Homo sapiens: one gene and its partners. The protein of the gene in region 3 interacts with the protein of the main gene of each other region in a pairwise test. Each region holds a gene or a part of one and is shown on either strand. Other genes may lie near its edges.

Region 1 (9,786 bases), on a different chromosome or scaffold from region 3:
CCAGAGCACAGAGGTGTACTATAAAGAAAGCTGTCCTACCCCACCCCCGAAGTTTATCACTTGTAAACAAGCTACAGATCCCAGCTGTAATCAACAAGGCCATCAGTGATAAAGGGTCAGAAAGAATCCTTCCTTTCACAAGGGTATCTAGGGATAGACAATTCAGTGTGGGAACAGGATATGTGCTTGCTCTCAGAATGACACGAAAGCATCATAGAAATTACACTTACAAATCCAAAGGATAGAAGAAAAGCACCAAATATTTCCCCTTAAAGTCATCAAGGCTTAGGTCTTTGAACTCTCCATTGACAACGGCTGTACCCTTAAAATAGGGTGCATGCTGGGTGACAGCAGGTGCATGGCATGAGGAACCTGAAAAAAAACCCACACTCATATGGAGTTCATCATTTGCTATGTCAAGCACCTATGATTTTATTTAAACTTCTCATAATTAATTAGTAGTATAAAGTGCTTAGTATAAATCAAAACATTCGGTTCAACTGTACATCTTAGGCACAGTCATCCTTTGCCACCTGTGGGGGGATTGGTTCTAGGATATCGAAATCTACAGATGCTCAAGTCTCTTACATAAAGTGGTGATTTGCATATAATCCACACACACCCTCCAGTATACTTAAATCATCTCTAGATTACTCATAATACCTAATACGACGTAAATGCTACGTAAATAGTCGTTAAGCTGTATTGTTTAGGGAATGACAAGAAAAAAAGACTTTGTGTTCAGTATAGACACAACCATCCATTTTTCCCTCCCAATATTTTCGATTCAACCAACCACAGATGCAGAATCCAGATACAGAGGGCCAACTGTAATTTCTCCTTCTATAGTTTTAGATTGTGCACAAATTCAATTCCAACTGCTACAGAAACTAAAAAGAGGAAGACAAAGTAGGGATAGAATTAAGGAAGACATGAGACTAGAGATGGATTTTAAATATGGTTCAGATTTTGTCAAGTCTAGATGGGATGGGGCAGATGGCATGTAGGAAACAGCAGGAAGGAAGACAGGACATGTGTGTGGAGCAGCGTGTGGCAGTCTAATGAGAACAGAGAGTGTCTAAGGGTACGGAGTGAAGAGCAGGCAGCAGGCAGGAATGGTTGAAGGCCATGTTGCAACAGTCCTTAAATACTAGGCTGCTGGGTCTTCTTAGCAGGAAAGATAACAGAGTCAAGGGCGGAGTCTCGCTCTGTTCGCCCAGGCTGGAGTGCAGTGGCACAATCTCAGCTCACTGCAAGCTCTGCCTCCTGGGTTCACGCCATTCTCCGGCCTCAGCCTCCCGAGTAGCTGGGACCACAGGCGCCCGCCACCCCGCCCGGCTAATTTTTTGTATTTTTAGTAGAGATGGGGTTTCACCGTGTTAGCCAGGATGGTCTCCATCTCCTGACCTCGTGATCTGCCAGCCTCGGCCTCCCAAAGTGCTGGGATTACAGGCGTGAGCCACAGTGCCTGGCTGAGATGGGGGTTTTTAGGAAGATTAGTCCGGCAGGAGGGAAAGAGGAGCAGGAGGAAGGGGGAGACATGTTAGGAGGTGGTTTCAGTGATTTTTTTTTTTTTGAGACAGAGTTTCGCTCTGTCACCTAGGCTGGAGTGTAGTGGCATGGTCTCGGCTCACTGCAACCTCCGCCTCCCAGGTTCAAGCAATTCTCCTGCCTCAGCCTCCCAAGTAGCTGGGATTCCAGTAGCACACCACCACACCCGGCTTATTTTTTTTAAGTATTTTTAGTAGAGACGGGATTTCACCAGGTTGGCCAGGATGGTCTTGAACTCCTGACCTCAAGTAATTCGCCTGCCTTGGCCTCTCAAAGTGCTGGGATTACAGGTGTGAGCCACTGTGCCCAGCCTCGATTTCAGTGATCTTAGACGTATTGAGGGGAGGTATGGGGCAGAAAGAACAGAAAGGAATGGATGCAAGAGATGTGTCAAAACTGAAAAGGACTTGCTTCTACCCAGGAATGAGCGACAGAGTAGTTCCAATGTCAAAATGCCTGACACCGCCATGAACAGAAACAGGAGGCGCTGCTGGGGATGAGGATTCGAAACCAGTGGAGTAAAGTTTTAAGCCTGTGGTATCACATCACTACTAGAAATATTTTGAAGCTCCAGGGTAGTAAAATTGCGAAAGCTCTTAGAACATTTTGCCCACAAACAAAGGCTTTACTAAAGTATATCCCCACAAACCATTACATATTAAATACGGGCTTTTTCAAAGGCTAGTCAAATCTAGACAAGGTATTTTCAAATACCACTCATTATCTGAGGCTGATCTTAGCAAAGCCCATATCCTAGAGAAGGGAGTGTAAATCTCAAGAAACAGCTAAATTTCGCTCAGATTACAGATACCATTAGACAGGTCTGGTTCCTAAGTGGCCAGCTGGGGCCATTACACAGGTTTGAATCTTAGAGCAGCTGCCCTCTCAGGTCCCCCACAGGCTGCCCACCACTCACAGCTCTTCAGACACACTAGACTCAGAAGGCATCTGAGCTCCCAGTAACACCCTCCTCAACACAGTGGATTAGAAACTCTGACAACCAACATGGAAATGTGACAAGGGCAGTTTGCCTCAGTGATTCTCAACCCTGGCTGCACGTTAGAATCACCCGGCACATCCTGGTCTCACCCCACAGACTAACTTGTCTGGGGTGGGACGGGGGCAGTGCTGTGTTCCTGAAAGCTCCCAGGTGACTCTAACGTTTGGCCAGGGTTCAGAGCCCCTGTCCAGAGACGATGGTTCATTTTTCCTTTACCTGGCTCCAGCCAAGACATGACATAACACTTACTGGTGCTGAATAATTTTGCTTGACTGGAACCAGAACACAATAAATTTGTCAAGCTCGTTCTTCCACATGCAGCAGGCCTGAGGGCTGCAGTGGCAGAAATGCCCCAAGGAATGGCACTCACATGTCGGGCAACCTGGAAAGAGAAACTTTTTATTAGAAAGTTTTCCTGGACTGGTGACTGAAGGCTGAAAGGGCATCGTGCCAACGGTGGTTTCAGCTGTCCCTGTTCCTGTGAACCAAATAGCAAACCCCAAACTCTAAGAGCATGGATTGGATCTGCATGTTCTTAACACTCCCTTCTGCTTCCTTCTCCTAGGAGACTGGAAGGTGGAGAGGAACTATAAGAACACAAAGACCGGCTGGGCGCGGTTGCTCACACCTGTAATCCCAGCACTTTGGGAGGCCAAGACGGGTTGATCACCAGGTCAGGAGTTCGAGACCAGCCTGGCCAAGATGGTGAAACTCCATCTCTACTAAAAACACAAAACTTAGCCAGGCGGCGGTGGCGGGCACCTGTAATTCCAGCTGCTTGGGAGGCTGAGGCAGGAGAATTGCTTGAACCCGGGAGGCAGAGGTTGCAGAGCCGAGATCGCGCCATTGCACTCTAACCTGGGCGACAACTCCGTCTCAAAAAAAAAAAAAAAAAAAATCAGAAACTCCATGCGCTTAAAGCAACACAGGGTTCAGAAGCCAGGGGACTTGTGCAGGCTTTTCCCAGCACTATCTGCTGAGTATGTTCTACCATTTCAAGGTTTTCCTTAGAAAAACAAGGCCCCTCCAGCACCAGCGACAAGTAAACAAGAAGAGCCAAATTCAGCCTCTGGGAGTCTGTTAAAGGCTCAAGGGACATGTTTACTCAACTTTTTTTTTTTTTTTTTGAAACAGAGTCTCGCTCTTTTACCCAGGCTAGAGTGCAGTGGCGCGATCTCGGCTCGCTGCAGTCTCGACCTCCTGGGCTCAAGTGATCCTCCCACCTTAGCCTCCCCAGGAGCACTGACCACCATGCCCGGCTATTTTTTTTTTTAGAGACAAGGTCTCACTATTATTGTCCAGGCTGGTCTCAAACTCCTGGGCTCAAGTGATCTGCCCGCCTCGGCCTCCCAAAGTGCTAGGATTACAGGCGTGAGCCACCGCACTCTGCCGGTTTGCTCAACTTTAATGTTCAAAATGACTCAGGAGAACGAAAGGGGCTGTGTTGAACCCCACCAGAGAAAGCCGTGTACCAAAAGAGCACGACGCATTGCCCACAGTTAAGCAGGAAACAGCAGCAGAAACACGCGGGAGTGGGATTGGGAGGGAAAGCCTTTGTGAGTTTTTTAGCACTTTGCGCGTTTTTATCCAGTATTTAAGGGGCTGTTCACAGCAACGCCTTGATGTAGGCATCATTCTTTCCATCTTAAGTACACAGTCTGAGAAAGGCGAAGGCGCTTGCCCAAGATCACAGGGTCGGTGGCAGAATCAGGGCCAGGACCTTAAGTGGAGATGGGCCTGGGGACCGGGGACGCCGAAAGAGGAGGGACTCGGGGAAGAGACCGCGAGGATGGAGTGGGGAAGGGCGGTTCTGCGCAGGCGCATGGAACCTTCCCGGAGGGAGGCCTCTGGGTCCGTTACCCGCGGAAACCCTCCAAGAAGGGCGAATGGCCCTCATGCCCAGAAGCGCGGGGTCCTGTCTGAGAAGCACGTTCCCGGAGCCACCAGTGTCTCCACGCCTGTCCCCAGCCGACAGCCACTCACCGACGCTCGGAGCAACCGTCCTACAGCAGCCGCCATCTTCAGTGCACTCGGGCGCCACGGGGCGGGCAGAGACGCAGGGGCGGGGCCTACGGGGTGGTGAGCGGGCCCTCTGCTGGTGGGGGGGCGGGGCCGGAGGAGCCACCGCCTCCCCGCCTCCTGGAGACCCTGAGGGAGAAATTCCCTTTAAGGCTGAATGCTTGGGCAAGTGACACGTGGTTTTCCTACTGTCGCCCCAACCTTAAAAGAACGAATCCAGGCGGGGCATTAGGTATTTGTTTCCATATTTCCCACTGTTTTGTTAACCTTGTGTGGATTACTGTGTCTAGTATTTCTGTGACAGGATCCCTTTCTTATTTCAGCCTCAGGTAGAGACTTCCGGCTTCTGTATGAAATGGAATTAATTACAAATGCAGTTTTAGTCCGTTAATAAGCTAAGTGGGCTAGACACATCAAGGCTTTGTTGGCCTGAAATCCGCTGGAATTGTGTGTGGTCTAACATTTGGCCTCTCTTCCCAAAATTGGGAAAACTGGGACAAATTTAAAATTTGGTTTTTGTCTATTAATGAAGCCAAGTGTTCAGTGGTGAGCATAGTACTTGAAGCAACCACATCAAACATAGATAAAAATCACACCGTGGCCTTACAGTAAGTGTGACAAATTGCAGTCTTGGAGCTGGTATTTTCTTTTCTCTTTTCTTTTCTTTTCTTTTTTTTTTTTTTTGAGACTGGGTCTTGCTCTGTCGCCCAGGCTGGAGTGCAGTGGCATGATCTTGGCTCACTGCAACCTCTGCCTCCCGGGTTCAAGCGATTCTCCTGCCTGAGCTTCATGAGTAATTGGGATTCCTGAGCAGCTGGGATTACAGCCGCCTGCCACCATGCCCAGTTAAGTTTTTGTATTTTAAGTAGAGATGGGGTTTCACCATGTTGGCCAGGCTGGTCTCAAACTCCTGACCTCAAGTGATCCGCCCACCTCGGCCTCCCAAAGTGCTGGGATGATAGGCATGAGCCACTGCACCCGGTCTGAGTTGGTATTTTCCAATCACTAGTCATTCAATTAGCAACTTCGTTTCTCAAGTCTTCTTATCACCAAATATCACTTACTATTTTCTTTAAATTGGCTTTCTTTTTTTTTTTTCCTTTTCTTTTTTGAGACAGAGTCTCACTCTGTCGTCCAGGCTAGAGTGCAGTGGCACAATCTCGGCTCACTGCAACCTCTACCTCCTTGGTTCGAGCGATTCTTCTGGCTCAGCCTCTCGAGTAGCTGGGATTACAGGCGTGCACCACTAAACCCGGCTAATTTTTTTAGTATTTTTAGTAGAGATGGGGTTTCACCATATTGGCTAGGCTGGTCTTGAACTCCTGACATCAGGTGATCCTCCCACCTTGGCCTCCCAAAGTGCTGGGATTACAGGCGTGAGCCACCACACCCAGCCCAGTATATTTTCTAAAATCATCTCAGGTACCACTAGGCGCCACCCTGGGTACCAGTCCCCAGATGTGGAAAGGACTGCCTTGGATGTGTGGGGACACACGTTTCGACTATTTCACCTCACACCTTCCTTGTGTTTGTTTAATTGGTTTTAATTATGTCTGTGTTTAGCAGATGATTGAAAAGGAGACAATCATTTTGGAGCTCAAAATCGTACTGTAGGCCGGGCGCAGTGGCTCACATCTGTAATCCCAGCACTTTGGGAAGCTGAGGTGAGTGGATCACCTGAGGTAAGGAGTTCAAGACCAGCCTGACCAACATGGTGAAACCCTTTCTCTACTAAAAATTGCAAAATTAGCTGGGCATGGTGGTGCATACCTGTAATCTCAGCCACTTGGGAGGCTGAGGCAGGAGAATCACTTTAACCTGGGAGGCAGAGGTTGCAGTGAGCCGAAATTGAACCAGTGCACTCCAGCCTCAGCAACAAGATTGAAACTCCGTCTCAAAAAAAAAAAAAAAAATACTGTAGTTCACAATGGAATATTATTTATCCATAAAAGGAATGAAATACTGATATATGCTACAACACAGATGAACTTTGAAAACACTAGCTAAGTGAAAGAAGCCAGACACAAAAGAACAAATAGTGTGTGTTTCCTTTTATATGAAACATCTAAAATAGGTAATTCCAAAGGGACAGAAAGCAAATCAGCAATTGTTAGGGACTGGGAGAAGCTGGCATGGGGACTGACTATTTATTTTTTATTTTATTTATTTATTTTTGAGACAGAGTCTCCCTCTGTTGCCCAGGATGGAGTACAGTGATGCAATCTCAGCTCACTGCAACCTCAGCTCACTGCAACCTCTGCCTCCCAGATTCAAGCAATCCTCCTGCCTCAGTCTCCCGAGTAGCTGGGACTACAGGTGTGACCACCATGCCCAGCTAATTTTTTTTTGTATTTTTTAGTAGAGACGGAGTTTCGCCATGTTGGCCAGGCTGATCTCGAACTCTTGACCTCAAGTGATCTGCCTGCCTTGGCCTCCCACAGCGCTGGGATTACAGGTGTGAGCCAGTGCGCCCAGCCGGAACTATTTAGTAGGTACAGGATTTTCTTTTTTTTTTTTTTTTAATTTTATTTTTATTGATCATTCTTGGGTGTTTCTCACAGAGAGGGATTTGGCAGGGTCATAGGACAATAGTGGAGGGAAGGTCAGCAGATAAACAAGTAAACAAAGGTCTCTGGTTTTCCTAGGCAGAGGACCCTGAGGCCTTCTGCAGTGTTTGTGTCCCTGGGTACTTGAGATTAGGGAGTGGTGATGACTCTTAACGAGCATGCTGCCTTCAAGCATCTGTTTAACAAAGCACATCTTGCACCGCCCTTAATCCATTTAACCCTGAGTGGACACAGCACATGTTTCAGAGAGCACAGGGTTGGGGGGTAAGGTCACAGATCAACAGGATCCCAAGGCAGAAGAATCTTTCTTAGTACAGAACAAAATGAAAATTCTCCCATGTGTACTTCTTTCCACACAGACACGGCAACCATCCGATTTCTCAATCTTTTCCCCACCTTTCCCCGCTTTCTATTCCACAAAACCACCATTGTCATCGTGGCCCGTTCTCAATGAGCTGTTGGGCACACCTCCCAGACGGGGTGGTGGCCGGGCAGAGGGGCTCCTCACTTCCCAGTAGGGGCAGCCGGGCAGAGGCGCCCCTCACCTCCCGGACGAGGCGGCTGGCTGGGCGGGGGGCTGACCCCCCCCACCTCCCTCCCGGACGGGGCGGCTGGCCGGGCGGGGGGCTGACCCCCCCCCACCTCCCTCCCGGACTGGGCGACTGGCCAGGTGGGGGGCTGACCCTCCCACCTCCCTCCCGGAAGGGGCGGCTGGCCGGGCAGAGGGGCTCCTCACTTCCCAGTAGGGGCGGCCGGGCAGAGGCGCCCCTCACCTCCCAGATGGGGCGGCTGGCCGGGCGGGGGGCTGACCCCCCACCTCCCTCCCGGACGGGGCAGCTGGCCGGGCGGGGGGGCTGAACCCCCCACCTCCCTCCCGGACGGAGCGGCTGGCCGGGCAGAGGGGCTCCTCACTTCCCAGTAGGGGCAGCTGGGCAGAGGCGCCCCTCACCTCCCGGACGGGGCGGCTGGCCGGGTGGGGGGCTGACCCCCCACCTCCCTCCCGGACAGGGCGGCTGCCGGGCGGAGACGCTCCTCACTTCTCAGACGGGGCGGCTGCCGGGCAGAGGGTCTCCTCACTTCTCAGACGGGGCGGTTGCCAGGCGGAGGGTCTCCTCCCTTCTCAGATGGGGTGGCTGGGCAGAGACGCTCCTCACCTCCCAGACGGGGTCGCGACCGGGCAGAGGCACTCCTCACATCCCAGACGGGGCGGTGGGGCAAAGGCACTCCCCACATCTCAGACGATGGGCGGCCGGGCAGAGACGCTCCTCACTTCCTAGATGGGATGGCGGCCGGGAAGAGGCGCTCCTCACTTCCTAGATGGGATGGCGGCCGGGCAGAGACGCTCCTCACTTTCCAGACTGGGCAGCCAGGCAGAGGGGCTCCTCACATCCCAGATGATGGGCGGCCAGGCAGAGACGCTCCTCACTTCCTAGACGGGGTGGCGGCCGGGCAGAGGCTGCACTCTGGGCACTTTGGGAGGCCAAGGCAGGCGGCTGGGAGGTGGAGGTTGTAGCGAGCCGAGATCACGCCACTGCACTCCAGCCTGGGCACCATTGAGCACTGAGTGAACCAGACACCGTCTGCAATCCCGGCACCTCCGGAGGCCGAGGCTGGCGGATCACTCGCGGTTAGGAGCTGGAGGCCAGCCCAGCCAACACAGCGAAACCCCATCTCCACCAAAAAAATACGAAAACCAGTCAGGCGTGGCGGCGCGCCTGCAATCGCAGGCACTCGGCAGGCTGAGGCAGGAGAATCAGGCAGGGAGGTTGCAGTGAGCCGAGATGGCAGCAGTACCGTCCAGCTTCGGCTCGGCATCAGAGGGAGACCGTGGGGAGAGGGAGAGTAGGGAGAGGGAGAGGGAGAGGGAAGTCCAGGATTTTCTTTTGTGGTGATGAAAATGTTTTGGAACTAGATAGAGGTGGGTATAACATTATGAATTAACTAAATACCCCGAATTGTAAACTTTAAAATAATTAATTTTATATTTGGTGAATTTCACCTCAATTAAAAAAAAAATTAGAAAAAGGCCAGGCATGGTGGCTCATGCCTGTAATTGCAGCGCTTTGGAAAGCCAAGGTAGGAGGATCACTTTGTGCCCAGGGGTTTGAGACCAGCCTGGGCAACATAGCAAAACCCTGTCTCAAAAAAAAAAAAAAAAAAAAAGAAAGAAAAAGAAAAAGGAAAAGAAAAAAAAAAGAGAGAGAGAAAATGTAGAAGAAATAGGGACTAAAAACATTATATACTGTAGTCTACTCCAGTGATTTAATAGATCTAAAAGGCTCAGAAAACTGAGCCTTTTGGAGATGGAGAGACCTTCCCAAAATCACATCACTGGCTAGAAGCAGAGAGGTAGGGCAAGAACCCAGAAATTCCATACCACTGACCACCCAGCGTGTGTGTCTGATGGAGTTCAGCCTCAGCACCTTTTCCCCAGCCAACTCGTGAGATTACGTCATCCACACCCTCATCGTCTCCTCTTCTCCCTCATACTACAGGGTTGTTTTTTTGGTAGAAACAAGGTCTCGCTATCTTGCCCAGGCTGGCCTTGAACTCCTGACCTCAAGTGATCCTCCAGCTCCCAAAGTGCTGGGATTACAGGTATGAGCCACTGTCACAACAGCCTGCAGTTTTAAAGTACTTAAGCTTCAG
Region 2 (9,452 bases), on a different chromosome or scaffold from region 3:
CCATGCATCAGGCATAGAACACCAGATTGGAGCAGACAAGAAGACTCTGGAAGACAGTGCTCCAAGAAAATGAAATGGACAGAATATCTGATGGTTCTGAAGCTCTTAAGAGGAGATGTGGTAGATAGCAAGGGATTTAATTAGTCATAACTACATAGAAAACTATACAAATACACAAAAAGCAAGACTACCATTAATGCAAGAAAAAAGTTGAAAAGAAAAGGATAACAGATCACAGGTTTTGGAAGGCATTCTCATGTATATATATGATAACTATAAAGGCTGAATAGTGATATAATCAAAATTACAGTAAATCTATAATGGGAATCAGAAGCGTGTACATGTGTAGGCAGGCAGGGAGAAAGAAGAGAGCTAGGTAAATCTTCACCTTCCATATCAGGAAGCCAATATATAATGTTCAAAACAATGTAAGTATGTTATCAACTACCAAAAGCATTACCTGAAAGAAAAGAGTAGAAATGATTGCCTGTGGAAATGAAAATGGGAAGAAAAGGTGTAAAAACTCCTGCTTTTTTTTCCTTAGCAAACCTTATAAAAATATTTGACTTGTAAAAATGATATGAATGAATAATTTTGATAAAAACTAAAAATAACACAGTATTGAATGCTTACTATGTGCTAATTACTGCTGTTATGTTCTTGGCACTTTACAAGTGTTTAATTCTCACAATCTTGAGGTGGATACAGCTCTGATCACTATTTTACAGATGAGAAAACTGAGTCACAAAGAATTTAAGTAACTTGCTTAAGGTCCCATAGCTAATTAATACCAATATGAATGATGTCATTCAGTAGTATAGAATTTAAGTGCCTCATCAATGTCATGGACAGTAAAGTCTATTCCACTGTTCTCTGATCCCGTGCTCATCACATTAATATATCATCAAAAGTTCAGGCCGGGCGCGGTGGCTCACGCCTATAATCCCAGCACTTTGGGAGGCCGAGACAGGTGGATCACAAGGTCAGGAGATCAAGACCATCCTGGCTAACATGGTAAAACTCCACCTCTACTAAAAATACAAAAAATTTGCCGGGTGTGGTGGTGGGCGCCTGTAGTCCCAGCTACTCAGGGGGCTGAGACAGGAGAATGGCGTGAACCTGGGAGGTGGAGCTTGCAGGGAGCTGAGATCGCGCCACTGCACTCCAGCCTGGGTGACAGACCGAGACTCCGTCTCAAAAAAAATAAAAAAAAAAAGTTCAGCTATCCTTGAAGAAAATATTGCAAGTCATATATCTGATAAGGAATTAATATCTAGAATACATAAGGAACTCACAAAACTCAACAACTAAAAACCAGCCAAATTCAAAAATGGGCAAACAACTTGAATAGACATGTCTCCAAAGAAGATATATAAATGGCTAAGAACATGAAAAGATGTTCAACATCATTAATTATTAGGAAAATGTGTATCAAAACCACAAGGAGATACCACTTCATACCCATTATGATGGCTGTTATCAAAAAACAGGAAACAGTAAGTGTTGGCGTAGATGTGGAGAAATTAGAGCCCTTGCGCATTGCCAGCGAGAATATAAAACAGTTCAGTCGCTGTAGAAAACAGTACAGCAGTTCCTCAAAAATGTCAACATAGACCTATCATTTGATCCAGCAATCCTACGCAAAAGTACATACACAAAAGTATATACACAAAAAAAGTATACACACAAAAGTACTGAAAGCGGAGATTCCCACAGATATTTGTATACAGAGATATTTGTTCACAGCAACTTTATCCACCATAGCCAAAAGATGGCTATTATGAATAGCCGATGGATGAATCAATCAACAAAATGTGGTATATTCATACAATGGAATATTAGTCATCTTTAAAAAGGAATTAAATTCTGATACATGCCATAACATGGATGAATCTTGAGGACACTATGTTAAGTAAAATAGTTGTATTAGTTTGTTTTCATGCTGCTCATAAAGACATATCCGAAACCGGAAACAAAAAGAGGATTAATTGGACTTACAGTACCACATAGCTGAGAGGCCTCTGAATCATGGCAGGAGGCAAAAGGCACTTCTTACATGGCAGTGGCAAGAGAAAATGAGGAGGAAGCAAAAGCGGAAACCCCTGATGAACCCACCAGATCTCGTGAGACTTATTCACTATCATGAGAATAGCACGGGAAAGACCGGCCTCATGATTCAACCAGTTCCTCTTTGGTCCCTCCCACAACATGTGCGAATTCTGGGAGATACAATTCAAGTTGATATTTGCCCAGGGACACAGCTGAACCATATCAATAATCTAGACACAAAAGGTCAAATATTGTATGATTCCACTTACATGAGGTACCTAGAATAGTCAAATATAATACAGACAGAAAGCAGAACAGTGGTTACCAGGAAATGAGGGAAGGAGAAATGGGGAGTAATTGTTTAAATGGGTACAGAGATTTGGTGTGGGATGATGCTTAATGCCACTCAACTGTACAGTTAATATGGTTATAATGATTAATTTTATGTATATTTTATTGAAATAAAAAAGGATACAAGGGAATGAGCTACTGATATACATAACAACATGGATGAATCTCAAAATAACTATGCTAAGTTAAAGAATCCAGACAAAAAAACCGTGCACATATATAATTCCATCTGGTTAAAATTCTAGAAAATGCCAACTCATCTAGTGACAGAAAACAAATCCAGGCTGACACAGTGGCTCACACCTGTAATTCCAGCTCTTTGGGAGGCTGAGCAAGGAGGATCTCTTCAGGCCAGGATTTCAAGATCAGCCTGGGAAACATATTGAGACCCAGTCTCTACAAACAAATAAAAAACAATAAAAAAAGAAAACAGATATGTCAGGAAGAGGAATTGCAAAGGGGCACAAGGAAACTTCTGGAATAATGGGTATGTTCATTATCTTGATAGTGGGGATAGTTTCACAGGTGTGTTGAAACTTATAAAACTATAAATGTTCAATATGTATAGCTTATTGTATGTCAGTTATTCCCGAATAAAGCCATTCACAGAGGGGAGAAAATGTAGCCATTCTTACAGGCTTAGCCTTCTCTTGACAAATGGGAGATGCCACTGCTGGTTATCCTTTCTCACTGGTGCTGAAACACTGCCACTCTCTTTGTTGGTAAAAAGTTACAGGACTGTATTTACACATTTCTCCCCTGCTCTGCCTCTTCTGATCTGGACCATCATATCCCTAGTCTGGATTACTTTGGTCACCTCTGTGAGCTCTCCTGTTTCTGGTGTTGCTTCCCTTCTTCTACTCCTCAGTGGCTCCCCATCTCACTCCAAATCCAAACCTACTACTTTGTATTCTAACATGACAAAGCCCTACCTTCTGCCACCCATTTACTTGTCCCTTTGTCTTCATTTCATTTCCTCTTCTCTCACTCTATTCCATCCACACTTGTTGCTTCTGAAACATCCCAATCATGTTCTATCTTCCCGCCTATGTGCTCCCGCTTCAAATTTCTCAGTGGCTCATTCTCTCCGTCCAATCTGCTTAAATGTTACCCCTTTAACAAGGCCTTGCCTGGCTCTCCTACCTAAAATTGTAAGATTATCCCTCACCCTTGTTACACAATCTACTTTTATTTTCTGTTTTCCCTTGCTAGAATGTGAGCTTGATGAGGGCAGGGATTTTTGTCTGTTTTGTTCACTGATACATGCTCAGCATCTAGACAACTGACTAGCAAATAGTAGATGCTTATTGTTAAATGAAAAAATAATTGCATAGGCATGAAAAAAATGTAACTTTGTAGATCAAATAAGTTTTTTCCCCCCCTTTGGTCTTCTTGTGAGCCTTCTTGGCTCTTCATGGGAGACCTTATTGTTAGATGAATAAATAACTGGATGGTCACCCCCAAAAATGTGACTTATAAGACCAAACAAGTTTTACTGAGCAGTATAAGTGATTTCAAAAATCACTGACAAGGCATAGCATGATACAATAAAAAAAAGCTAGGTCAAATAAGCTTTGAGATTTTAGACAGGGATGCTGGGACGCTAAGATAACATTAAACATCACAGCGTTTTTATGAATACTCCAAAACTCCAAGCTGTAATTATAAACTAGCTTTTCATGGTCTCAGTGATGAGCTGAGAAATATAGAGCAAGTCATGTTAAAATAGAGATTCAAGAATTACGGGAACAAATTTCCATCCTTAAGGGGATGCAATTTTTCCCAAATCAAAGACATGAATGGAAATCCTAGAATTCCAAGAACATTATTGCAAAGTCTCTACTTTCCAGCCTATCACATGCTCAACAGGAAACATGGATCGGTTTCTTCCTTTTGTGAGCCTTCCTGGGTTTTGGATTTTTGTTTGTTTCTTTGTTTGTTTTGAGACGGAATCTCACTCTGTCGCCCGGGCTGGAGTACAGTGGCGCAATCTCAGCTCACTGCAACCTCTGCCTCCCAGGTTCAAGCAATTCTACTGCCTCAGCCTCCCGAGTAGCTGGGACTACAGGTGCGCACCACCATGCCCAGCTTATTTTTCTATTTCTAAGAGACAAGGTTTCACCATGTTGGCCAGGCTGGTCTTGAACTCCTGACCTTGTGATCCACCTGCCTTGGTCTCCCAAAGTGCTGGGATTACAGTTGTGAGCCTCCGCGCCCAGCTGCCTTCCTGGCTCCTTGTGGGAGGTCTGGAAAATAATGTCAAGAATATGCAATACTTGGCACTAGTTTAAAATCTTAAGAATTGCTTTTCTTTCTAGAAAGACAATTTCACAGAAAATGTTTCCTTCCAGACAAAGAAACAAAAATGGTAGCCAATAGTTACTGTTGATCTAAGTGATGTTTCTGAAGGTGTTCCAGTCAAAGAACAAGGTGCTGGACCATATTAAACATTGGGTTTTTAATGCCTTCCCCGCTAAAGTTCGTTTTTTATAGCTAGGAGTAACAAGCAATTGCCAGCAAAGCTGGAATAGGAAAATCAAATATTCTGCCTATTTACATATGGTTCCCCGAAGCCATTCCTGATTAAAAATTGTACCATTTCAATCTTCCTACTGGAGATATCTATTAACTAGAACGGCATGTGAAAGCCAATGAATTTAGTATATAATTACACGTATCCTATACAAATTACTTCTCAATGACCTCTACTCATGAAAATAAACCAAAGAGGGATGACTGGCTCATTATAAATCTACAAGAAGATTTCCCTGGGAAAAGGTATTGAGAGCAGAGTCTTGAAAGATCTTAAGCTTCAACTGAATTTAATTTCAGCAGGAAGCAATCACTTCTGTATCTGAATTCCCAGTGCATTTTACGTGAACCTCTCCAGTGGCAAGGAACACTTTCCAACTTAAATCCCTGCTCTTATCACTAAGTAGCAATGTGACCTTGGCCAAGCCACTTCCCTTCTCGGTGTTTTCATTTGTAAAATGAAAGGCTAGAATCAAGTGATTTCAAAAGTCTCTTTCAAACCCAATGTTTCATCATTTCATAATTATAATCACGAGAGCCCACCTATTACCTCCCTATTACCTCAAAGTGAGAAAGCCATTGATTTATCTTTGGAGTTCCCATACTGTCTAGAACAGCTCATTGACAAACAAGTTCAAGGACACAGAAAAAAATACAATTCTCTGAAGTGTCCACTCTCTATGACCTCCTTAAGCCCTTCTCAACCTCAACCAAAATTTTAAACCAAATGATTCTCTTCAAGTCCACCTTTGCCATAGTTCTGGCATTCTGCCAAGGATTATAAGACCAGAAAACTAAACAGATATCACTTGTCACTTAGAAGACATGCGCCCACCATAGAGTTTCAAGGCACATGCTTTGTACACCATCTGACCCAGAGCCACATGCTTTGTATGCCGTCTGACACACAGCCAGACACCTACAGAAAGGTTCTGTTTCATCGAATAAGATAATCTGATGCATTCCAATCATCTGAGAGTATGTGCTGGAAAGCTACAGCAGATGTGGGTGAGAAGTAAAGCTGGAGAAAGGAAGACACCAGGACCTGAAAGAAAAAGCAAGTGGAATGTCCCCTTAACCTTTCCAGAAGGTGGACATTTTAAAAATCCAAGTCCCTGGCCAGGCGCAGTGGCTCACACCTGTAATCTCAGCACTTTGGGAGACCAAGGCATGCAGATCACGAGGTCAGGAGTTTGAGACCAGCCTGGCTAGCATGGTGAAACCCCGTCTCTACTAAAATTATAAAAAATTAGCTGGGAGTAGTGGTGCATGCCTGTAATCCCAGCTACTCGGGAAGCTGAGGCAGGAGAATCACTTGAACCCAGGAGGCGGAGGTTGCAGTGAGCCGAGATCGTGCCACTGCACTCCGGCCTGGGAGATAGAGCAACACTCTGTCTCAAAAAATTAAAAAAGTAAAATAATAAAATAAAATCCCTGAGACGGCTACACTGCTGGGATAAGAAATACCTGCTCATAATGCACATAGCCTTAGGTGTTAAGATTCTGAAGCCTGGATATTTGTCCTCAAATCCTAACTCTGCTAATTACTTGCTGCATCACCATGAACAAGTTAATCAACCTTCTGTGACTCAGTTTCCTCATCTGTAAAATGAGGATAGCAATAGTACTTCATTACTATTTTGTTCTTTGAATTGTTGGGAAGACAAAATGAGTTAATGCATGTAAAATGCTTATAACAGCATGTAGCACGTAGTAGGTGCTCAATAAATGAGCATTCCCAGTATTGCTATTATTATTAGATGGAGTTCTGAGAATTTCTGCAGTTAAGAGAACAAAGGAGGCCGGGCATGGTGGCTCAAGCCTGTAATCCCAGCACTTTGGGAGGCCGAGGTGGGCGGATCATGAGATCAGAAGATTGAGACCACGGTGAAACCCCGTCTCTACTAAAAATACAAAAAATTAGCCGGGCGTGGTGGCGGGCGCCTGTAGCCCCAGCTACTTGGGAGGCTGAGGCAGAAGAATGGCGTGAACCTGGGAGGCGGAGCTTGCAGTGAGTGGAGATCGCACCACTGCACTCCAGCCTGGGCGACAGAGCGAGACCCCGTCTCAAAAGAAAAAAAGAAAAAAAAGAGAACAAAGGAGTTTGCACACCGCTCTTACAGATTCAAATTCTACAGTTCCCTCTTTAAGTACCAACATTTCTATATTTATATGTAATTTATATTTGTATACTTTGTCAGTCTTAATTACTCCTGAGCATAGAAACTATTCATTAGACATTTAAATTCCTTTCTGAAAGATATTCTAGGTTTCAAAAACTACTTGATCACCCACGGGAAGGGAGTACAATAGGACTATTAAACTGGAGGGCTCAGAGTAATTGGGAGCACAAAGACATCTTTGTAGAGCTTTGTACTATCACATACCACTGCTTCAGGTTTGGAGAGTTGTCTCCTTAAGAAAGAAACTAACTCCATTGTTCGTTCACATCAGAGTTCTTGGATGTGATAGTTCTTAAATCCCTGGCAAGTCCTTATTAAAGATCAGAGGATCTCCGTTCTTTCCATTAGGACAGCGTTAAATCCCTTCAAGCGATTTTCTTAGGTCAGCATCATTATTTGAGATGCCAGAGAAAGTGGTGAAATTTCCAAATGCTAAACTAGTTCCTTGTTTCAGACTGAAGACATAAGATAAAGTTAGAAAAAATATTAGTAGTTCTGAGGAAATTTTTGAGACTGGGAAATTGTAAGAAATTTAAAGAGTACTTTAAAGATCTTTTTTTTCTTAAATCTCTTTTCCAAAACAGTAATTTTAGTAAACAAATAACAACAACAAACAAAAATCCAATCAAATAACTAGAGTTGTCAGAAAATAATGACCCTGGAAAGTTCCAGTCATTCCCTGATGGGATATCCAGAATTCTGGTTTTCCAAACATCTTTCAGTAAATCAGACAGGAGAGCTAATACTATGTCTTGTATCCCTTTGCCAAATAATCAGACACAAAAGAAAGTCAACAGAGGTCATGCTCTCCTCCATCTGTTCAACTACCATTTTTGTAATTCTATTCTAAGGAAAAATGAGGGCCATAAACACACAGAAACAATAATAGAAGAAGAGAAATGTGGGTGGGCTACTAAGAGGTAGCCTACGATCTGTTTCAAGGGGATTATACATCAGAAAATGCAAGAACAAGTCTACCACAGCCACCCAACAAGGTCTAAAACTGCAGAATTGGGTAAAGAGCTAGGGAGTTTCCTGAAAATAGAGGACTGTCTGCTTACAAAACCTACCTCAACTGCTTCTGGCAAGGAAGGACAGTAGTTACAAACTATAGGAAGCCAAGAACAAGTCCATATTTGACAAATCACACCCATCAAGATAGTGATGTCAACCATAATAAAATATTTTGGCAGGTCTGGAAATGTGCACCTGTGGGAACCTGGAAAGATTTGACAGATTTTTGTTTTCCCAGCTCTTTATCAGCAAGTTAATTATAGCAACTGTACAATCTCCTCTGAGCTGTAGAGAAGACAGTCGGCTGTATGAAACCAAGAGGCTGCTCTCCTGGGCACAAGAGAGACAAATGACAGCAGTGCTTACGTGCGAAAATATTCTGAGTACAGTATAACAATGAGCCAGCTAGCATGGCCAGATGAGAAAGAGGCATATTCTGCAGACATACAGGTGTGACAAGACTAAAAAGGACACATGATACACACACACGCATGTGCATGTACACACGCAAGCACACATGCAAACATGTTCATGTATATGCGTGTGTATCTCCAGAGCCTAAACAACTCGGGTCATATTATTACATACAGGGCTGCTTTTTCCAAGAGCAGACTGTACCTTCACAGCTATAACTGTACACTGCCACCGCTGACCTGTCCACCAGATTTTCATCATGATGCCAGCTCACTGCCATTTTCCCCATGCCAAAATAAGGTTCCTCTTTCAGGTATGGCATTTTCTGAGGATCCATGAAATTCAGCAAAGTTACGTTGTATGCTGCTCTGCTCTTAATGTCCACTTCATCTTGTCCGTTGTAGGATGAACCCATCCCAACCCTGGGGAAATCTGCAGACATACACAATGGCACAGCATCCTCATTAGCCTTCTCTTTGGCAGCAAGTTCTTCCAAAGCCTGGATGGTTTCTATCTGCAGGTAGTCATTGAGCTTGAGGAAGGTCTCACAAGCAGCGGCTATTTCAGCCTCGGTGTGTTTTATATTAGACCCTTTCACTGGCCAGGGGACCGTAAAGAGCCTGGTGTTCAGGTACTTGTAGGTGCAGCCTGGATTACCAATGAGGATGCGAGATACCGGAGTGAGCAGATCTTTGCCTTGGATCCTAACCAGGTCCCGAAATAAGCAGCCATGCTTGTGCAGTGTGAGAAAGGCTTCTTGAACCTCTTTATGGAGCTCCTCAGATACACTGCTGGCTTCTCGGAGAATTAGTTTAGGATATTTCAGCTGCCACTAAAACAAAACCAAAGCAAAAACAGACGTTGATATATAGCTACAATTGTATTATTTCCAAAGGTGTGTTTCTTTGT
Region 3 (10,588 bases):
TGGGGCACACCTGGAGTCCCAGCTACTCAGGAGGCTGAGGTGGGAGGATCATTTGAGCCCAGGAGGTTGAGGCTGTAGTGAGCCACGATGTCACCACTGCACTCCAGCGTGGGTGACAGAGAGACGCCCTACCTCAAAAAAAAAAAAAAAAAAAAAGGCTGGGTGAGGTGGCTCACACCTGTAATCTCAGCACTTTGGGAGGCCAAGGCGGGAGGATCACTTGAGGTCAGGAGTTCATGAGCAGCCTGGCCAACATGGTGAAACCGCACCGCTACTAAAAATACAAAAATTAGCCAGGTGTGGTGGTGCATGCCTGTAATCCCAGCTACTTGGGAGGCTGAGGCAGGAAAATCACTTAAACCCAGAGGCAGAGGTTGCAGTGAGCTGAGATCAAGCCACTGCACTCTAGCCTGGGTGACAGAGTGAGACTGTCTCAAAAAAAAAATAAAAATAAGTAAGAACACAGCCAAATCACCACTTTCAGCCCGTGTTAAAGGACAAAGGGGTGAGTGGTGGATTCTAGAAGATCTAGAAGTTTTTCTGTCCCACAAAGGGTCCCATGCAGAAAACAGGTATCAGTTAATGATTAGGGTCTCATGCAGAAAACAGGTATCAGTTAATGATTATCCTCATGATAAATTGTTCGTCAGTCCCCTAATCGGAATTGCCGCTTCTCTGTACTGTGGGTCGTATATTACAGAATGCGCATCTGTCTGATGCGCAGATACTAACAGGAGACGGAGCAGGGTCCCCCACTGTCACAAACTCTGCACCCTGCCTAAGTCAGTGCTAGTTTCATGAATGTTTTCAATCCACACCTTCGCCCACCTCACAATATGGCATGGGGCTGTGTGTGCGCCTTTCCCCTCATCCTAATGGAAGATGCAACGTCTTCCGAGTTTGAGAGTTTTCCACAGCAGCCTTCTCGGGCTAAGCCATGGTATAACACCAGGCAGTGGCAGAAGGCAAAGAACACATCCAAGACAATGACTGCCCTCACTAAGGACAAGAAAAAAAAGGCAAAAAGCATTTATTCTTTTTTTTTTTTTTGAGACAGGGTCTTGCTCCGTCTCCCAGGCTGGAGTGCAGTGAAACAATCTCAGCTCGCTGCAACCTCCGCCTCCCCGGTTCAAGCGATTCTCCTGCCTCAGACTCCCAAGTAGCTGGGATTGCAGGCACTTGCCATCACACCTGGCTAATTTTGATATTTTTAGTAGAGACGGGGTTTCCCCATGTCAATCAGGGTGGTCTTGAATTCCTGACCTTGTGATCCGCCCACCTCAGCCACTCAAAGTGCTAGGATTACAGGTGTGAGCCACCGCGCCCGGCTCTTTTTTTTTTTTTTTTTTTTTCCAGACAGGGTCTAGCTCTGTTGCCCAGGCTGGAGTGGAGTGGTACAGCCTCAAACTCGTGGGCTCAAGCGATTCTCCCCCCTCAGCCTCTCAAGTGGCTGGGACCACAGGTGCGCATCCCCATGCCCGGCCTCATTATTTTACATTTACTAAAACCTGGGGCTGAAATAGGAACAATACCAATGCTGAGCTGGACACAGACGAGGCTGTTCGCAGCTGTCAGGTGACAATGTTGAACTGACTTCAGCTCTGTGCTCCTGGAAACCAGCAAAGGTGAAACCCCGTCCTGCTGTGCTCTGGAATTGGGACAGCCAGGACCCTCCCTTCCCATACGACTTAGATAAGATTCACGCAGATGACAAGGCCAGATTCAGACCCTCCGAAATCCCATTCTTTGTCATCAGAAATGATTCACTAGGTTAGGTGTGCCCAGGCTGGAGTGCAGTGGTGTGATCATGGCTCACTGCAACCTCTGCCTCCCGAGTTCAAGCAATTCTCCCTGCCTCAGCCTTCCAAGTAGCTGGGATTACAGGCACACACTACCACGCCCGGCTAATTTTTGTATTTTTTAGTAGAGATGGGATTTCACCATGTTGGCCAGGCTGGTCTTGAACTCCTGACCTCAGGTGATCCACCTGCCTCAGCCTCCCAAAGTGCTGGGAGTACAGGCATGAGCCACCGCGCCAGGCCTAGCCAACTCTTCAGATGCCTGCATACTTGACGGTCACAGAGCTCTCCCCCTGCAGCTGTCTCCCTGTGGCTACAGCATTAGTCCCGCAGCTCAATCATCAACTGTCCCCATGCCCCTGTTGCTTATACCCCCACCCCACTGCAATAGAACCTCAAGCCTCTGGCATTACTCTCCTGCCTCTAATCCAACTAACCCTTCTCCCTATTGCAACAGCCCCTTCTCCCCCTCCCCCAATACCTCGCAATAATCCTTTTTCATAAAAGTTTCCTTACTACGTTTGGGTTTACACAAGCTTGACCACATGTTCGCAGCCTCCCGTTTCTTCCCCAAACTTTACTCAGCCTTCTGTCCTCTCCGCAGGCCCCTGAACTTTGGCCCCCCCGAGTCTGAGCAAGCAGTAAGTGTGGAGTCCCCTGTCACCTCCCCTGAGCTAGCTGACCACGAGGAGGTACATTTACTGTCAACCTCCTTTCTGCTTGTCCCCTAAAACGTTCCTCCAAACCTTTTCTTGTGTATGAAAGTAAAGCCTTTTCCTGGTTGATTTTGAGACCTGGCAGGTTTCGGAGGCTGGGGCTTATCCCTATTTTTCTCTCTCCTTCTCTAGCCAGGATTTTTTTTTTTTTTTTTTTTTTTGGTTTTTGTTTTTGAGACGGAGTCTTTCTCTGTCGCCAGGCTGGAGTGCAGCGGCGCCATGTCGGCTCACTGCAAGCTCCACCTCCCAGGTTCACGCCATTCTCCTGTCTCAGCCTCCCTGGTAGCTGGGATTGCAGGCGCCCGCCACCACGCCGGGCTAATTTTTGTATTTTTAGTAGAGACGGGATTTCGCCATGTTGTCCAGGCTGGTCTGGAACTCCTGACCTCAGGTGATCCGCCCGCCTCGGCCTCCCAAAGTGCTGGGATTACAGGCGTGAGCCACCGCGCCCGGCCCAGGATTTTATTATTTGACAGGCTCCAGGACAGGGCACCACCTCCTCCTTGGCAGACCTTCCCAAACTGACCACCAAGCCCCTGACGGCTCCTGCCCTCTCCTCCCACTCTCCCCGATCCCCTGACTGCCTCTACTGTCCCCCAACACATCCCTCGAGCCCGACTCCCTTTACTGTCCCCCCAAACTTCCCTCAAGCCCCTGATCGCCTCTACTGCCCCCCTTAAAGTGCCCCTGAGCCCCTGACTGCTTCTGCTGTCCCCTCGAGCTGCCCCCAAACTCCCGACTGCAGCTACTGTCCCCCTAAACTGCCTTCGAGCCCCTGATCACCTGTCCCCCAAAACTGCCCCTTCAAACCCATGACCGCCTCTACGGCCCCCTCAAACTGTCCCCGAGTTCCTGACCGCTGCTATTGGCCCCCTAATCTGCCCTTGAGCCTGACTCCCTTCCACTGAACCCCCAAACTGCCGCCGAGCCCCTGACCGTGTCTGTTCCCGCAAACTGCCCCTGTGCCCCTTAAACCTCTACTGTCCACTTAAATTGCCTCAAGCCCCTGACCACCTCTGCTGTCCCCACAAGCTCTCCCCAAACTCCTGACCTGTACTGTCCCCAGAAACTACCCCTCGAGCCCCTGACCGCTTTTGCTGTCACCCCAGACTGCCCCCAGCCCTACCCCTCGGCCGCTGTGACCACGTCCCCGGGGCCCAGGCGCTCGTCGTGCGCCGCCCCGCGCGTCCCTCAGCTTTCTCCGGCTGCGAACTCGGGCGGAAGCCGGTTCCTGCCGCCCCACCTCGCCCTGGGCCCGGGCTCGGCTCCCGCCCGGCACTCACCATGTCCCGCCCGCTCCTGGGCTCTCCAGGGTTAGCGCCCCGCGGTCCAGCGACCGGCGCAGGTGAGCACGACAGGACACCTGAGCCGCTCGGGGTAGGCGGGGAAGCGCGCAAGGCAGAGGGGAACTCGGCTTACCGTCCTCGGGGTCTGATTGGACAGATCTCGGGAAGTGGAGACTCTGATTGGACAGTGCTGTCGACTCCGCACCCCTGATTGGAGAATTCTCCAGTCCGTCCCCCTAGCGCCCTTGATTGGGCAGGGCTCCGCTTCGGATTAACGTCTCTGATTGGACAGTTCCCTAGGCCCCGCCCCTGCCTGTCCTGATTGGATAATTCTCTCCTCAGTGACGGGCTCGTCGAGAACACGCGTGGCTGACCCTCTAGCCGGGCAGCCGCGGATCTGGGAGAACTCACTCCAGTCCAGGGAGGGCGCGGCGTCCTCCTCCCTGACTGCACGGCAACTCCAGACTCAGTTTCCCCTCGGAGCGGCCCCTCGTGCGGGGAGGAGAGGAAGGGCACGGAGTCCCATGGGGCGGAGTCCTGCGTGGGGGCGGGACCCGCGTGCGTGACGTCACCGTGCTGTCCCGCGTGGGCGCGGACGCCTGGGGTCCAGAGACCTGGAGATCTGGAGACCAGACGACGAGGCCCCAGGAGGCCGGACCCCACCAGGCGCTCCCTGTGTTCTTAAAACTCTCGGCCGGGCGCGGTGGTTCACGCCGGTAATCCCAGCACCGTGAGAGGCGGAGACCGGCGGATCATCAGAGGTCAGGAGTTCAAGTCCAGCCTGACCAAAATGGCGAAAACCACTTCTCTCCTAAAAATACAAAAATTAGCTGGGCACGGTGGCGGGCGCCTGTAATCCCAGCTACTCCGGAGGCTGAGGCAGGAGAATCGCTTGAACCCAGGAGGCGGAGATTGCAGTGAGCCAAGATCAGGACACTGCACTCCAGCCTGGGCAACAAGAGCGAAACTGAGTCTCAAAAAAAAAAAAAGCAGCCCTCCCACAAACAGAACCACGTAAGGTCATGAAGAGAGAGGTCTCACATTTATATGCTTAATAACGAAAAAGACTCTACAAAAACCACAGGCTTAAACAAAAAATACTTTTACAGGGACACTCAGACTGGTGTGACCCTTGTTACTGATCTTTGTAGACAAGGATAATTATTTCTGAAAAATGATGTAATCCTCATTTAAAATTTTTTTTTTCCTTTATAAACCTTTGTCCCAGTCTGGGCAACATGGCAAAACCCCATATATACAAAAAATACAAAAATTAGCTGGGAATAAAGGAGTGTGCGCCTATGGTCCCAACGACTTGATAGGCTGAAGCAGGAGGATCGCTCGAGCCCGTGGGGATTGAGGCTGCAGTGAGCTGTGATCTCACCATTGTACTCCAGCCTGGGCAACAGAGACCCCCGTCTCAAAAAAATGAAAACCAAAAACAACCTTTGTCTTCCTTTACCTCCCTGAATAAGCACATAGTTTGCTATGCCGCGCATATTCCCACTGCAATGAACTGTTACCACCGTTTTTAGACAGCCTGTTATTTAGGTCGACACAGTAAAAACATGAATTACGACAATTATGTTTGTATGTAAAATGGCAAGCGATATAGAGTTTATACTTCTACTCTGTCTCAAGCTGGAAAGTCTTTTCGGAGATGAGCAGTCGCGTTCCAGGCTTTAGGAATTGCGGCTCAACTGAATAAAAGTATTCAGAATTTTCACGTCGAGTTCAAATTTATTTAAACTTCTATGATTATTTTCTCAAATGAGTTAAAATAAGAATTCAATTACCATAGGAACAGTACAGCCTTTTACTTTAAGAAATTCTCTAGGGCCGGGCGCAGTGGCTCACGCCTATAATCCCAGCACTTTGGGAGGCTGAGGCAGGTGGATCACCTGAGGTCAAGAGTTCGAGACCAGCCTGGCCAACATGGCAAAACCCTTGTCTCTACTAAAAATATAAAAATTAGCCGGGCGTGGTGGCACATGCCTGTAATCCCAACTACTTGGGAGGCTGAGGCAGGAGAATCACTAGAGCCCGGGAGGCGGGGATTGCAGACCCAAGATCGCACCACTGCACTCCGCCTGGGTGACAGAGCGAGACTCCATCTCAAAACAAAAACAAACAAAAAAACGCCATTTGAACGACACGTTTTGTTTCCCCCCGCTTTATTATTTTTAAAAAGTACCATGGTGTACACATTGCATTACAATTGTTTTTGTGGCTCAATGAAAAAAATAAATCCTCCACCTCTCTTCATCTTAATAGGTGACTTCCTTACTCCTTACAGATGTAAGATGATGTAAGCTGATGTAACAAGGTCTCTCTAAATAGACAGTGGACTTGTTTCCAATCTTTTGCTACTCAAAGCTTGTCTTATGTTGCACCACCATGCCTGGCAGATTTTTGTATTTTTTGGTAGAGATGGGGTTTCACCATGCTGGCCAAGTTGGTCTGGAACTCCTGACCTCAAGTGATCCGCTTGCCTCAGCCTTCATCAATGGATATTAATGAAGCTTAGGATACTCACATTGTGTCAAAGATAAGAGGCAAGGAAACTACAAAGAAATTGGAAGTGATAGGAAACAGTGGAATAACTGTCAGAGAGGAAGCAGTGGGAACAAAAGACAGGAAAGAAAAACATGCCTATTATCAGAGTCCCTGAAGAAGTAAACAGTAGCACAGCTTTTCACCTTACATCATTAAGAAACACATAAATAGGCCGGGCGCGGTGGCTCACGCCTGTAATCCCAGCACTTTGGGATGCCAAGGTGGGCAGATCACCTGAGGTCCAAAGTCCGAGACCACCCTGACAAACATGGAGAAACCCCATCTCTACTAAAAATACAAAAATGAGCTGGACATGGTGGCAAATGCCTGGAACCCCCGCTAATCGGGAGGCTGAGGCAGGAGAATCACTTGAACCCAGGAGGTGGAGGTTGCAGTGAGCCGAGATCATGCCACTGCACTCCAGCCTGGGCAACAAGATCAAAACTCTGTCTCAAAAAAAAAAAAAAAAAAAGGAAAAGAAACACATAAATACTATAATAAATGTAGCAACGTACCTTGCAGAAGATCCAAAGGTTGCTTGTGGAATTGGGCAAGGGAATCTAAATTTCCAGAGTTAGTATGCAGTGGTGGAGAGAGGGTTGTCGGAAATCTAATGTTAAGTTTTAAAGCAGAGGAAACAGTGTGACTTGGTATTTGAGGTGTGTGCGCGCATTTTCTGTTTTCCTACCAGACTCTTCAGTTATGTGCAATTTCTTCTGTTCACTTAGTGTTTCTTAGGGTTGAAACTGAACATAAACAAATATGAAATTCGTGTTATACTCACATTACTCAACATATCAGGTAATTTGTGAAGACAGAGATGTTTCCTGATCAATTGTTCTAGCCGACTGACAGCCAATATCTACATAGAATTATTTCAAAGTCGCAGGGTGCGGTGGCTCACGTCTGTAATCCCAGCACTTTGGGAGGCCGAGTTGGGCGGATCACAAGGTCAGGAGATCAAGACCATCCTGGCTAACATGGTGAAACCCCGTCTCTACTAAAAATACAAAAAATCAGCTGGGCGTGGTGGCGAGTGCCTGTAGTCCCAGCTACTCGGAAGGCTGAGGCAGGAGAATGGCGTGAACCCAGGAGGCGGAGCTTGCGTTGAGCTGAGATCACGCCATTGTACTCTATCCTGGGCAACAGAGCAAAACTCTGTCTCAAAAAAAAAAAAAAAAAAAGAATTATTTCAAAGTCAATTGAGTGGCTGGGGGCAGTGGCTTACGCCTGTAATCCCAGCACTTTGGGAGGCCGAGGCAGGCGGGTCACGAGGTCAGGAGTTCAAGAGTAGCCTGGCCAAGATGGTGAAACCCCATCTCTACTAAAAATACAAAAATTAGCTGGGTGTGGTGGCGGGCACCTGTAGTCCCAGCTACTCGGGAGGGTGAGGCAGGAGAATCACTTGAACCCGGGAGGTGGAGGCTGCAGTGAGCCGAGATCACACCACTGCACTCCAGCCTGGGCGACAGCTCGAGACTCCGTCTCAAAAAAAAAAAAAAAAGTAAATTGAGGACACTGTAACACTCTGCTCTTAAACACCTCCCAAATGCTATTTTAGAGAAAAATCTGTATTTTTATCTAAAAGTCCACACTTCATATTCGCACTTTAGATAGTTAACAATCATTCCTTTATACCTAGCCCATAATCGTATTTCCTTCAATTATACCCCAAATGGTCTTTACAGCTGGTCCTCCGAAGATCCAACCCCAAACCAGGTATTGCATCTTCTTTTATTTTATAGTATTATATGGTCATGTTGAATTTTTCTTTTGAGGTGTAGTCTATGAATTTTTGTGTATGTATAGCGTTAACGGGTGAATTGCGTCCCCACAAATCCGTAAGGTGAAGGCCTAACCCACAGTACCTCAGAAGGTATTTGAAGATAGGCCTTTAAAGAGGCAATTCGATTAAAATGAGATTAAGGTGGGCTCAAATCCAAAAGACTGGCGTGCTATTCATTGCAGGGTGTTGAGCAGCACCCTAGACCTCCTCATCCACTGGATGCCAGTCGCCCCAACCCCATCCCCGGTTGTGACAACCAAGTCTGCAGACATTGTCCAGTGTCCCCTGGGCGTAAAATTTCTCCTCCCCTCTTTGATAATCACTGCTTTAGACTCTATTTGGTCTTAGAGTCTTTTCTCTGAAGTCCATCATTTTATCCGCCGTAACCCTGCTGTCTTCACTTAAGGGGTCCAAGACGTTTACAGGAGGGTGATAATGGTGATGATGAGCTGCCAATAATAATCCACACACAGCACTATTTGACAAATGCAGGTAATGTTATGTATTTTACAGACCTGGAAACTGAGGCACTTAGGGGCTTGGCAACTTGCCTAATATCACCCGAGAGCTGATTAAGGCTTGGGGCCAGGACTGGGACCCCAGGATGAAGCCCAGCTGAGCAGAAAACCTCTGTGCACAGGATGCAGCAATCAAGATAATAAAAATCAACTCCGACTGAGAAAGTATCTGCCTACACATTCATCAGGCTGGGAGGACAGACCCAGATGGTATCAGTTGGAAAATTAACAGAAAACAGTATTTTTGCCAAGGACACCTTTTTCTGAGCCATCAATGTCTTCTAGCTCGCTAAATGCCTTCCTTGCCCATTACAATCATACACAGTGATTGACATTTTATCAGTAAGAATAAACTTCCCTTTTCCGGCCGGAGGGTCTGATTTTCTTGGACACAGAGAATCCGTCTCCATTTCCAACCCAGGTGCAGGGCTCTGATAAGCGGTTTCCGGACATAACAATCTACAGCGGTCTTATCTTGTGGTTCCCAAGGAAACAGGTCCCGGCTGCACTTCGCAGCCCAGACCCGAGGGTGACCCCTTTACAAGCTTGCTCTTTGCCAAATGGAAACCACGCAGTATTTACATTTCACCTAAACCCCACCCTTCCCTCCAAATCCGATGGGTTACTCAGGCCTAGGATCCTCAGGCCTAGGGGGTCAAAACGCCCCGCGTCCCCAACCAAGACCCCTGAAGTCTAGCGGGGTTCCACTGGCCTCCGGAGCCTCCTCCCTGGGGCGCGGTGCCAGGACTTCGCCATTAAACGAGCCCGCCCCCTGCACTTTGAACTCTGCCCCCATCCTTTGACCCAAACCCCCCTACGCCCCGGCATCGGAGTCCCCTTGCTTGGCCTCTGCCACGAAGATACGGGGCCAGGTCCAGCAGTACAAGGAGGAGAAACCGCTCTCACGGGAGGCGCTGCGGCCACTGAGGGAGACGGCCGCCGCGGGTCACAGACGGATGCTTCCGTTTCCGGTTCCGGGGCGGCTGGGAGCTGAAAAGTGGGCTAGTAATGAGCTTGGGATTGGTGGAGCCTCAAAGATAGGCGGGACGACCTACGTCGTCCAATCGCTGAGCAGGAAAAGCTAGTTTCCGCCGTCTGGGAGATAATTGGCATTGTTGGCAGATCCGCCCCTCGAGGGCAAGTCTCGGGACAGAATCGCGCTGTGGGCGTGGCTTGTACTGGATCCTCCCCGGGGCGTGGCTAAAACAAGACCGAGGTCCCGGGACGAGGTTGGGGGCGTGGTCTTTCGCGCAATCCTCCAACGCCCAATTACCCTGATAAACAATAAACGCTAAAATAAGTAATAAATGCTCATTTCCTCCAGCCAACACATTCCTCGTGATAACATACTCCTGCACAAAGATATTCCCATTGTTGGGATTTTTCTTCCTTGAATGTCTGTTATTTCTTCCAGAAATAAGGTCATTTTTATGCATTTACATGTGGCTTTTCTTATTAATGAGTGCGTTGTGATGTTCCCTTCTGGCCACTAGATGGCCACGTAGCTCACATTTTCAAATTCGCGGATATTTTGTTTTAGTTGCTTTAGACATAGGTGTCCAATCTTTTGGCTTCACTGGGACACATTGGAATAATTGTCTTGGGCCACACATAAAATACAGGAACACTAACTATAGCTGATGAGCTAAAACAAGACAAAAATTGCAAAATAATCTCATAATGTTTTTTTTTTCTTTTTTTTTTTTTTTTTTTGAGACGGAGTCTCGCTCTGTCGCCCAGGCTGGAGTGCAGTGGCGCGATCTCGGCTCACTGCAAGCTCCGCCTCCCGGGTTCAAGCCATTCTCCTGCCTCAGCCTCCCGAGTAGCTGGGATTACAGGCGCCCGCCACCAAGCCCGGCTAATTTTTTGTATTTTTAGTAGAGACGGGGTTTCACCGTGTTAGCCAGGATGGTCTCGATCTCCTGAC

Evidence for each region.
Region 1: the proteins of ZNF77 (region 3) and PRDX3 interact in binary tests that used the Homo sapiens proteins (3 or more experiments, as listed by UniProt).
Region 2: the proteins of ZNF77 (region 3) and FTO interact in binary tests that used the Homo sapiens proteins (3 or more experiments, as listed by UniProt).

What each region holds. Positions count from the first base shown.
Region 1 is NC_000010.11:119,174,221-119,184,006, forward strand, and holds the start of PRDX3 (thioredoxin-dependent peroxide reductase, mitochondrial isoform a precursor), read right to left. Parts: upstream 4,593-9,786; 5' UTR 4,571-4,592; coding exon 4,535-4,570; intron 2,934-4,534; coding exon 2,801-2,933; intron 373-2,800; coding exon 231-372; intron 1-230. UniProt on the Homo sapiens protein: Thiol-specific peroxidase that catalyzes the reduction of hydrogen peroxide and organic hydroperoxides to water and alcohols, respectively. Plays a role in cell protection against oxidative stress by detoxifying peroxides.
Region 2 is NC_000016.10:53,825,787-53,835,238, reverse strand, and holds part of FTO (alpha-ketoglutarate-dependent dioxygenase FTO), read right to left. Parts: intron 9,376-9,452; coding exon 8,748-9,375; coding exon of another isoform or gene 8,718-8,747; intron 1-8,717.
Region 3 is NC_000019.10:2,941,040-2,951,627, forward strand, and holds the start of ZNF77 (zinc finger protein 77), read right to left. Parts: upstream 3,933-10,588; 5' UTR 3,802-3,932; coding exon 3,799-3,801; intron 1-3,798. UniProt on the Homo sapiens protein: May be involved in transcriptional regulation.